Linked DNA regions of Homo sapiens: region 2 is linked to region 1. Evidence: fine-mapped expression QTL. Tissue or cell type: esophagus muscle. Region 1 holds a variant in brackets; the other region holds the start of a gene. All regions are shown on one strand. Distances are from middle to middle. Region 1 overlaps OSBPL6 (oxysterol binding protein like 6). Region 2 holds the start of CHROMR (cholesterol induced regulator of metabolism RNA).

Region 1 (5,000 bases):
TAAATAGCAGCAAGTGAATCTGTCCTGTATCATTGGTCCTTACGGACATTTTAGATAAGAAAGCAGAACAAACTGATAGAGTTTCTCAAGGCATGCAAGTTTCTGAACATATGGAGGTCAAAAAAGGCATCATCTAAAACAGAAAAAAAACACATGTCTTTTTAAAGAATTTTCTTTTGAAGTAGCCAGTCAGTTGTTCACTAAGTAAAATTCCAGAAAACACTTCTTGACTATAAATCTTCTGGTTTATATTTCTGTTTCTCTTCCTGCTTGATATGTGTTCAAGTGATCTGAATTTCGGGAACTCATTATAATGTTGTCATTTTCTGAAGACACTTGATGTAGTCATGTAGATGATCACCACCAGTCAGTACATGCTTATCCAACCCTGCCACTGTTATAATTCAAATAAGTTCAACAGGAAAAATTAGCCTCATTAACAAGAAAATATGTTGGGATAGAAACGCCCAAAAAGCACCATTTTCCCTCAGTTTCTCTGGTCTGAAGTGGAACATTCAGTATCACTGCCGTGTTTGTTTGGATGTGCTACAGAATTCAACATAGTATAGAAACCCCACCCAGCTACCATACCTGTTCAATTCATGATCCCATTCTAATATGGTAAACAGGTAACATATTGGAGTCTTAAGACTCTAATATTTTCTTTTCTCAGTTAAATCCTTTTAAGCCATATTGGAAGGTTGTATTTATTTTAATTGAGTGTCTTTATTTTAGCCCAAAATGTTTTCACTACCTTTTTTCTTAGAGACTCGTAAGGTACCTAGAACTGAAGAGCCAAGATCACTATGTGCTCTGGCTGGGTGATGATGTAAATATGTACATTTGGCTTTGTAGGCTATGAGAAGCTGCAGTGCAGTCCTGTCTCTAACACTTGCAGAGCCTGTATAATTAACTAAAATATGTAAATCAAGTCTGTAAGCTATAAAATAGAATATGCTCTATTTCTTTGCCTTGACAAATACACTTTTTATAACAAAGCCTGTGAGGCCAGGTTGGACCCTTCAGAACTCTGTGCTGTAACCCTGGCAATGTAGGACAGCCAGTCCTGGCCCACGGCCTTCCCTACTTTCTTCCCACCTCTGGCTCTGTTTTGACTGCAAGGGGCCTCATACACACATATACAGGCAGGCCAGCCCACACATCTAAGCTCTGTTCACACCCCCACAAACAACCACCCTTGGCCACTCTTCAGACCTAAAGGTGCACACGCTGGTGGGTGGTCTGCCCTTGGGTGCATGAATCCAAGGAAAAGGGCCTTGCCAGCTGTGGAATAACCTTGGAGCTACTTGGACAAGGAATTCTAGGGTCCTGTATACTTGGGGCCTGATCTGGAAGGGGAATCATGGGGTAGGCAAACTCCCATAGACTTCTTATCCCTTGGGAAGGAGTATGGCTGGAAGGGCCACTTGAGGGCCCTCCTCATAAAATTTGGCCATTTATAGATACTATGAAAATTATTTCACAAACAATTTCTGCAGCATGGCCAATTGAAATTTATTAAAATCCATGAGCAAGAGGAAAATTCAAAACAAGAGGAAAAAAAATTGCTAGCTTAGAAATTAATATTAGGTTCTTGGGATAGAAGCTGAGCCTTCTCTGTGATATACTACCATGTTATGCGTGGAATAGAGACCATCCCTTTCTTGAAAGTTAAGCTAACTCTTAGAAAGCCAGCCCTCCATATAAAACGTTTTGAGATTTCTGTATTTCTGAAAATGGTTTGAATAAGGGACTTCAAGGCTAAGAAATTTTTCTATATGGAAAATACAGGGAATGATGTTATTAAAGCCATCAAATGTCACAATTGGGGTTTGGTTTTTCCAGGTGAATTATTGGAATTCTAACATGAATGAAGTCCAGGGGGTGGTGATAGATCAGGAGGGGAAGGCGGTGTACCGGCTGTTTGGAAAGTGGCATGAAGGACTCTACTGTGGTGTGGCCCCCTCTGCAAAGTGCATTTGGAGACCAGGTGAGAGTGGCCTGAGTGTTCTGCCAACAGGAGGGCACTATGGACAACAGAAGGGAAGAGAACATCAGGTCATCTTATGCAACTCACATTATGTTTCCTTTAAGAGTGAGATTAAAAGCGTAGATGCTTATGGCAATTATAGTTACATTCATACTTAACATAGAAGTTATACATAAGCCCCAATATTTGATATTTCATAATAAAGAATGTAGGCCAAATCTCTGACAGGCAGTCAGAGATTGGGCTTCATGAAAAATTGCTCAAAGTGTAATGCCTACATTTGAAAAGCTAGGTATATTTATTAAAGACTTTAGATAATTGAAGTATACAAACTTAAAACCTTACTCATGTTATTTATTCTCTGCTTTAATAAAACAAAGACTACAAACATTTGTAATCCACAAATTCAATAACTCACCAGAATAAGTAATCTTTTCACTTGAGCCTCAAGAGACAGCAATATGTTGACATTTAATAAAAGACATCAAAAGAGTTCTGATAACACATTAGCTTATGATTGAATATCAAGTATAAATGGAACAAGTATCCACATGACATTTATTGTCACTGGAATTTTGTCAGTTAATCCCTAACTAAAATTAGTTGTTAGTTTCCTAAGAGACATCAATGAGTATTTAAATTTCCCGCTAGTAGAGTGGCTAGCTTATTCATTCCGCAACTATTTATTGAGTGCTGGCTGTACATCAGGCTTTATTCCAGGAGCTCGGGATACGTCAATGAGCAAGACATACAAAGATCCTGCCTTCAAGTTTAGTTAAAAAGTGGCAAAAAATATTAATTTAGGTCTGCATATTTTTCTTTTCTAAAAGGAAGCAAACAAGTGTTTCTGGTGTACTCTTAATGTTCATAGTTAATTGCCATAGTATTTAGTTAACCAATTGAATATTCAAGAGAAATATTATGGAGTAGTTTAGCTAATGAAGACTACTATATGTGCAGTTTTGTTTGAAAGACAGGATTGTATTAAATATATGAATCTGTCA[A/G]TTCTGATCATCAACACAAAGTTTCCTACCTAGGAATACCACCAATTTAATTCACTTGAAAAAATCTATAATCTTGTGTTTATGACTACAAATTTGGTGTTAGTGTAGGTACTAAGTACTAGGGTAAGTCAGCTTCTTCCAGTTCCATAAACCTTCTGCCTCTCACAGTGGTTCATTGGCCTCTTTCCAGGTTCCATGCCAACAAACTATGAGCTGTACTATGGCTTCACAAGGTTTGCTATTGAGCTCAATGAGTTAGATCCAGTACTAAAAGATCTCCTTCCACCAACAGACGCCCGGTTCCGGCCAGATCAAAGGTGAGGATGGCAGTGGTATTTAATATGCAGACTATGGCTGGGTGCAGTAGCTCATGCCTATAATCCCAGCACTTTAGAAGGCTGAGGAGGGAAGATCACTTGAGGTCAGGAATTCAAGACCAGCCTGGACAATATAGTGAGACTCTATATCTCTAAAAAAAAAGAATTAAAAATTAGCTGGGTGTGGTGGGGCATGCCTAAAGTCCCAGCTACTAGGGAGGCTGACGTGGGAGGATCGCTCGAGCCTAGGATGTTGAGGCCACAGTGAGCTATGATTGTACCATTGTACTCCAGCCAGGGCAACAGAGAGAGACCCTGGCAAAAAAAAAAAAAAAAGGCAGACTATTATGGCTTGGGGCTTTAGAGGTCATTGTGACTTATTTTTACTACCATCATGTATTTTTATTCAATCCTTTCTCCATTCCCTTATTCACTCAGCAATATTTGAGTTTTCTATGCCAGGAAAAGCAGTATTCATAGAATGATCATAACAGATTATCTCAGCACATAGTTCCCCACAGAAGATAAGATAACAGAGATATTTTTTAACAAAGTTTCTCCCTCCCCCTAAAATTTACCAAAGGTCTGTAAATTTGTGAACTCTTTCTTAAATATATAATCAGTCCTCACCCAGTGTTTCTGACCTTTTTACTTCTATAACTCTGTAACATGGAGTATCTTTTAAACTGAAGAATAATAGGATAAGTTACAGGGGAACTCAGAAATGCTTTGAGTGCAAGTCTGCAATTTGCCCAATGTGGTTTTGATCCCACAGAGTATGAGATATACTCAAAATACAGTACCTTTAATACCTTCTGATTCTTAGTTTTTTATTCTTATGTAGCTCTGAACTCATGATGTCCATTCCTATGGAATTCATTTTACTTTTCCCAAAAATTCTATATGCCATACAAATTCCACTCAAGATCAATTTTCTGTTTCCCATGTATTTGTGGCTTTATCTGCCATCTGCCAAAATGCTCTCAGTTTTGAATGTTCCACTATTTAATTCTCTTCTATTTTGCCCTCTCTCTCTAGAACATGTTGTCTTGCTATTTGACATTCAAATTTATTAATAAACTTCCTGTACAATGTATAGCATATTATATTCCTGTTCTTTGCTCTCATTTTGAAATGTAAGCATTTGTAAGTCACCATTCAGTCTGCTTTTTCCTTCTCAATTCTATTTCAGTGTTCCTTTTCTGAATTTCATTTACTATTCATTTCACATTCTGTGGCCTTTTGTAATTTTCCCCATTACCTTTTCTTTTCTCATCAGTTTTGCCCTCTCCAGTAAAACAGGAAAGCTCCTTCCCTCTCAGCCTGTTCTCAAAATAGACGGAGAATAGCCAGTTACCATCCTCCATTCTATGGCCTTTTAGCAAAAGCTTTCTGATAATATAGAAAAGGAACATGGCTATGACTTCACGCTCTTCTCACCCTGGACTCTGCAGTTGTCCTGAAAATCTCAAGTTATAGAACCCTAGACAGCATAGAAAAGTCTTCAAGGCCAAACCACCCACCTTTCACTGATATTGCTGATTATAATAATTCAGTTCATGTACATAGAAAATATGTAAATCCTGGGAGGCAGAGGTTGCAGTGAGCTGAGATCACACCACTGCACTCCAGCCTGGCGACAGAGCAAGACTCCGTCCGTTACTGTGCGGTATTTTATGTTCATAGCAA
Region 2 (5,536 bases), 22 kb after region 1:
CACTACTGAACTGTGCACCTAAAAATAGGATGGTATTTTTTTTTTTTTTTTTCGAGATGGAGTCTCACTCTGTCGCCCAGGCTGGAGTGCAACGGAGTAATATCAGCTCACTGCAACCTCCGCCTCCCGGGTTCTAGCCATTCTCCTGCCTCAGCCTCCTGAGTAGCTGGGACTATAGGTGAGCACCACCATGCCCAGCTAATTTTTGTATTTTTAGTAGAGATGGGGTTTCACCATGTTGGTCAGGCTGGTCTCGAACTCCTGACCTCATGATCTGCCCCCACCTTGGCCTCCTAAATTGCTGGGATTACAGGCATGAGCCACCATGCCCAGCCTAGGATGGTAAATTTTATGTTATGTGTACTTTACCACAAGTAAAATTTTTAAATAAAAAAATGACATCTATATCCATGTTGTACCATTGTTAATTTCCTTGTTTTGATATTGCACTATATTTATGTAAGATGTAACCACTGAAGGACTTGGTGAAAGGTACAGGGACATCTCCATACTACCTTTGCAACTTCCCGTGAATCTTTAATTAGTTTAGAGCAAAAAGTGTTAATTTCATGTTTGTGTTAAAAAAAAAAAAAAGGAAGTTATAGACTGCCAATCTCTTGGACCAGGATAATAGAACTTTATGAACACAGAGATTAAAGCCTATTTAACCACAGTTTGCCCATGATGGTAACTTTGATCAGAAAGAATCTCACAAGCTGGGACCCAACAGGACCAAGTAATCCATGTCATGATTATTACACGTTATCAGCCTTCCAGGGAAGTGGAATTTACAAGCTTTCCCTTTGGCATGGGGCCCAGGTGATGGCCTCCTATTGAGCAGAGTCCCCAGCAATAATTACCCTGCATGTCAAAGGCCTCATTTCCCCAAAACAGTAAACCATAAAATGTAGCCCATATTCTCTCCATGTATATCACTCAATATCACACCGTAGAGGCATATAACTGATAATATTGCCTCTGGCCCATGCCAAATTGCAAGTGGTAGATTTTTTTTTTCCTTCCGAATTAAGAAACACAAGATTTACCCCTTTTCTTGGAAAAGTGTTAAGAGTCTAGCACCCCCAATAACTAGGGTCTACAAATGTCTAAAAGTTATTAATCTTGGTCTGTCTTAACTACCAATTCTCTTAATTTGGGTAACCTCAATTTTGTTGTTGTTTTTTTTTTTTTGAGACAGAGTCTCGCGCTGTCGCCCAGGCTGGAGTGCAGTGGCGCCATCTGGGCTCACTGCAATCCCCGCCTCCCGGGTTCAAGCAATTCTCCTGCCTCAGCCTCCCTAGTAGCTGGGATTACATGTGTGCACCATCACACCCAGCTAGTTTTTGTATTTTTATTAGAGACGGGGTTTCATCATGTTGGCCAGGCTGGTCTCGAACTCCTAACCTCAGGTGATCCACCTGCCTCTGCTTCCCAAAGTGCTGAGATTACAGGCGTGAGACACTGCACCTGGCCTGGGTGACCTCAAATTTTTAAATGAAGGGATTGGAGGTAACATCTAGGATTTTATCTAGTTCTGTCTTCTATGATTCAAACCCCAAATTCTCCACTGCAATGACTGCTTCTGGAATAAATATTCCTGGTTGCCTGTCTCTGAAAAAAAGCTCTCACATAAGGCTAATGAGAGGCGAAACTAAGGCAGGATCTCTCCTTTCAAGACCACATAGTCAGGGTTGTTTAATAAGCACACAAAGTAGAGACATATTTACCCATTCACCATGAAAAAACACCCCTATAAAAGGCCCAATACCTGGGCTTAATAGCTTCATTTCTTGTGTGATCTTGCAGTGTACATCAAAAAATTAACAAATAACATCCAGTGACATGATCTTGGCTCACTACAACCTCCGCCTCCCGGGTTCAAGCGATTCTCCTGTCTCAGCCTCCCTAGTAGCTGGGATTACAGGCATGCACCACCACACCCGGCTAATTTTGTATTTTTAGTGGAGATGGGGTTTCTTTCTCCATATTGGTCAGGATGGTCTCTCTCGAACTACCGACCTCAGGTGATCAGCCCGCCTTACGCCTCCCAAAGTGCTGGGATTACAGGCGTGAGCCACCGCCCCTGGCTCCCCCACCGGCAATTTCTAAAATGTATCGGTCTCCTCCCAAGCCCTTGTTCCTTCATCCCCCACCCGGGGCAGATTCAGACAAGCATTTATTTTAGTTCCTAAGCCGCGCGGTGCTCCCAGCTTCCGCGCCTCTGGGCGGCCCACACCCCTCCCCATCCTCTCCTCCGCGCCGCCGTCTTCGTTGCTCTTGGGTGGCCGCGGCGCCCGCTCCCTCTGAATTCGCCGGGCAGGGATACAGCCGCCCGGGGCCTCTTGCTCGTGCTTGGTTTTCCGGACCTTGCTTCCTAAAGGGTCTTTAGGGGTTCCCGGACTCCTCCGCCTGGGAGCCTCTATCCGCCTGGGAGCCTCTATGCGCCCCGCAAAGCCCCCGGCAGAGCCGAGGGGAGGCTTCATTGGCGACCTGGTGGGGCCTCGCGGCCCTGCTCCCTGACGTCAGCGCCGCCGCGGTGATTTAACAGCTTTTGTTTTGGGCAGAAGAACCTATGGGCACAAAAAGCAGGAACGAGTAGCGGTGGCTGAAGAACGAGCAGGAGCTTGAATTTCAGTTTTCTTATGAGGAATTTTCCAGAAAAGATATCTTCACTGTGAAATAACTAAATAAATGCCCACTCAGTACAGTAAGTATTGATATCGTCCTATAGCATTTGGCTAGAAAGTGGTGTCAATAGGGTTTTTCCTTCAGACTTTGCAATACTGTTCAGAAGGGCCAATGCCAATCCTTCTGTGAGGAAGTTTTTTTCTTCCTAAATATGTTAATTGCCTCAACTTGGACTAACGGTCACACTTGTGAATATGAGTGTAAGAAACAGTTTATTTCTCACATGTATGAAAAGGAAATTTTCTTTCATCTATCTCAGGCCCCTATTCAGCGTAAAATCAAGATTATTTAACTTGCAAGATTAAACAACGACCTTATTTCAAATGAAATAAAATTCAGTCTGATCAGAAACCCCTTGGAGCAGTTTATATTAACCTAATTATCTTTTTACTGCAGTAAGTTAATTGAGGATTATGGAATGCATCTAAAAAGCAGTTATATTTACAGGTCCCAAAATTAAATGCTAAGGAAAAGCATTTCTGCAAACCCAGGTAGTACGGACAAACCGAAGGGAGTTTTATTCTGTCAAGTTTTACTCTAAATTCAATCGTTGATCAGCTAGATCTCGGCTTGGTTATTCTTGGAGGAGCTGCCTTGCAAATGATTCCACTCTGAGCTCGCCGGCCACAGTAGCGTGAAATGGATGGCAGTCAGTTTCCTCTTCCTAAGACTGGGTGTGGTTTCTCTGGGCAGACTACACAGTGGCGACTCTGGCGGGATTTGAGGAGCCTGGAGAGGCCCACCACGTGTGTGTCTCCCCCTAGTGACCAACGGGCTGAAGTTCCTGTGGTTAAAGGCAATTGCTGATTTTGTCATTAGCAGGAAGGTGAAGCTCAACGACCTCCTGCGTGTACAGCACCATTCTAGAAGCTGGATGTGTTTAAAGATATGATGCAATATGTACCCAGAAGGCATAAGACTAGATCACTAGGGTACAAATTAAAATATCAAGTTGCATACGCTGAGTATGGGATTAGGTCAGCGGAACACGCTTTGGAAAACACTGCTTTAACGACCTCATTCTGAGTCCCTGTAATGCTTAAGATTATAGCACAGTTTAGGCACCTTATATACATTATGATGGAATGCTTTCCTAGAGTGATATTCTGTGGTGGAAAGAGCAAATCAAAGGTCTTTGTGTTCTCTGTGACCGTGGAAGAAATTGCCATTAAGTAGTAATATAAATAGGGGTTTTAAAAAACGTGGGAAAAGTCTGAAGAAGCATTTGCAGAAACTCCTTACAAAGTCAGTGACAGCTAGGCCAGGCCAAGGTGGGCGGATCACTTAAGGCCAGGAGTTTGAGACCAGCCTGGCCAACATGGCAAAACCCTGTCTCTACTAAAAATACAAAAATTAGCTGAGCGTGGGTGGCTGAGATGGGAGAATTGCTTGAACCCAGGAGGCAGAGGTTGCAGTGAGCTGAGATCGCACCACTGCACTCCAGTCTAGGCAACAGTGCAAGACTCTGTCTCCAAGAAAAAAAGGAAAAAAAGACATGTACTGTAAATGTAAAATATAAAATATAGGCTGGATTTCAGAGACATAGTATGTAAAAAAGAATGTAAAATATCTTAATAATTTTTATATTTATTACATGTTAAAATGATAATGTTTTTGACATATTAGGTTAAATAGAATATAATTCAATCAGTTTCTTTTCTCAAAGAGTGTGGCTACTAGAAATGTTTAAATTATGTATATGGTTTGCATTATATTTTTTCAGACAGTGCCGATGTAATAGTAACAAAAAGTCTCAGCCTCATTTAAGATAAAAGGCCATCATCAGACAATGCAGGACAGATTGTAACAATAGGAAGTACTACAGAGATTCAGAGAATGCCATAAATAACCTTGGAATCCTGTGCTTGGGTAAAACATTTGCTTTTTACTTAGCTGATCCCTTAAAGCCTGTTAAGTTGAAATGTTACAGAGGGAATTTTATATTAGAGTTGGCCACCTCAATTTCATAACTTTTTAAGGAGAAAATGGCTTACATTTGTGCATCTTCAAGGTTTTCAAAGCATTTGCACATTTATTATCTCATTTCATCTTTCTAACCTGAGAGGAAGGTAGAGCAGTTTATCCCCATTTTACTGGTAAGGAAACTGAGGCTCAAAGAGTTCATGTGATGTGAAGAATATTGGAATTAAGGATGCCAGAGAACAATGACTCAGAGTGACCAAGTCATTATGGGGTCCATTTGGAGGTCTCTATGTAGAGGGAGAGCTTCCTCAGGGACTCCTGCAGACATCTCCTTATTGGAGGACAGGAGGAAGCTTGAAGACACTTTTCCCCACTCGGACTCAGTACTGAGTACTTTTCCACTCTAAGTCCTTCACCTTCTCCTCATCCCAGGCCCTGGGTCCATAAAACTGCAGGAGCCTTTTGTTCAAGGGTTCTCTCAGCAAAGCTGTGCTGATCCACCTGACCCTGGATTGGTGCCATTCTATCACAGCATGGGATTAAAGCCTTGACCCTTCCTTTCATATTGGCTTATTGTCTTCACTGCTTTTCTGACTTCTGGCACCTCAACTCTCTGGAACTAAGCTCGGCCCTTGACAGTTAGACCTGCTGTCTCTTCCCACTCTGACTTCCCTCTTGTCTCCCATCCCAATACTCTTCCTTGCTCTGGCTAGGCACAACCCCCGACTTTAAAGTTTTGGAGTGATCACGGGCATTTCTGGGATTTGGCCAAGGGATAAATTGAGTTGAGACTACATTGAGTTTGGGTTTAATGGGATATATGTATGTGGTTTGTAGTCACATCCATGTATAGTTAAGTAATGGTCATACCACTACTGGAATGGTTTCTAGGAATACTCCTACTAGTGACTATGCGGGTTCACAT

The links.
Region 2: it holds the start of CHROMR, and the variant in region 1 is fine-mapped to the expression of CHROMR in esophagus muscle (GTEx, PIP 0.97).

What each region holds. Positions count from the first base shown.
Region 1 is chr2:178,389,228-178,394,227 of GRCh38, forward strand. OSBPL6 (oxysterol binding protein like 6) reads left to right here. Exons shown (of 25, transcript NM_032523.4): 22 at 1,846-1,990; 23 at 3,185-3,311. Among named protein-coding and RNA genes, the nearest start is that of CHROMR, 22 kb to the right of the region's middle. The variant A/G (reference allele first, on the strand shown) is at 2,995.
Region 2 is chr2:178,411,407-178,416,942 of GRCh38, forward strand. CHROMR (cholesterol induced regulator of metabolism RNA) reads left to right here and starts at 2,253. Exons shown (of 5, transcript NR_110204.1): 1 at 2,253-2,707. RefSeq lists enhancers at 2,017-2,592, 2,422-2,621, 3,123-3,382, 3,170-3,744.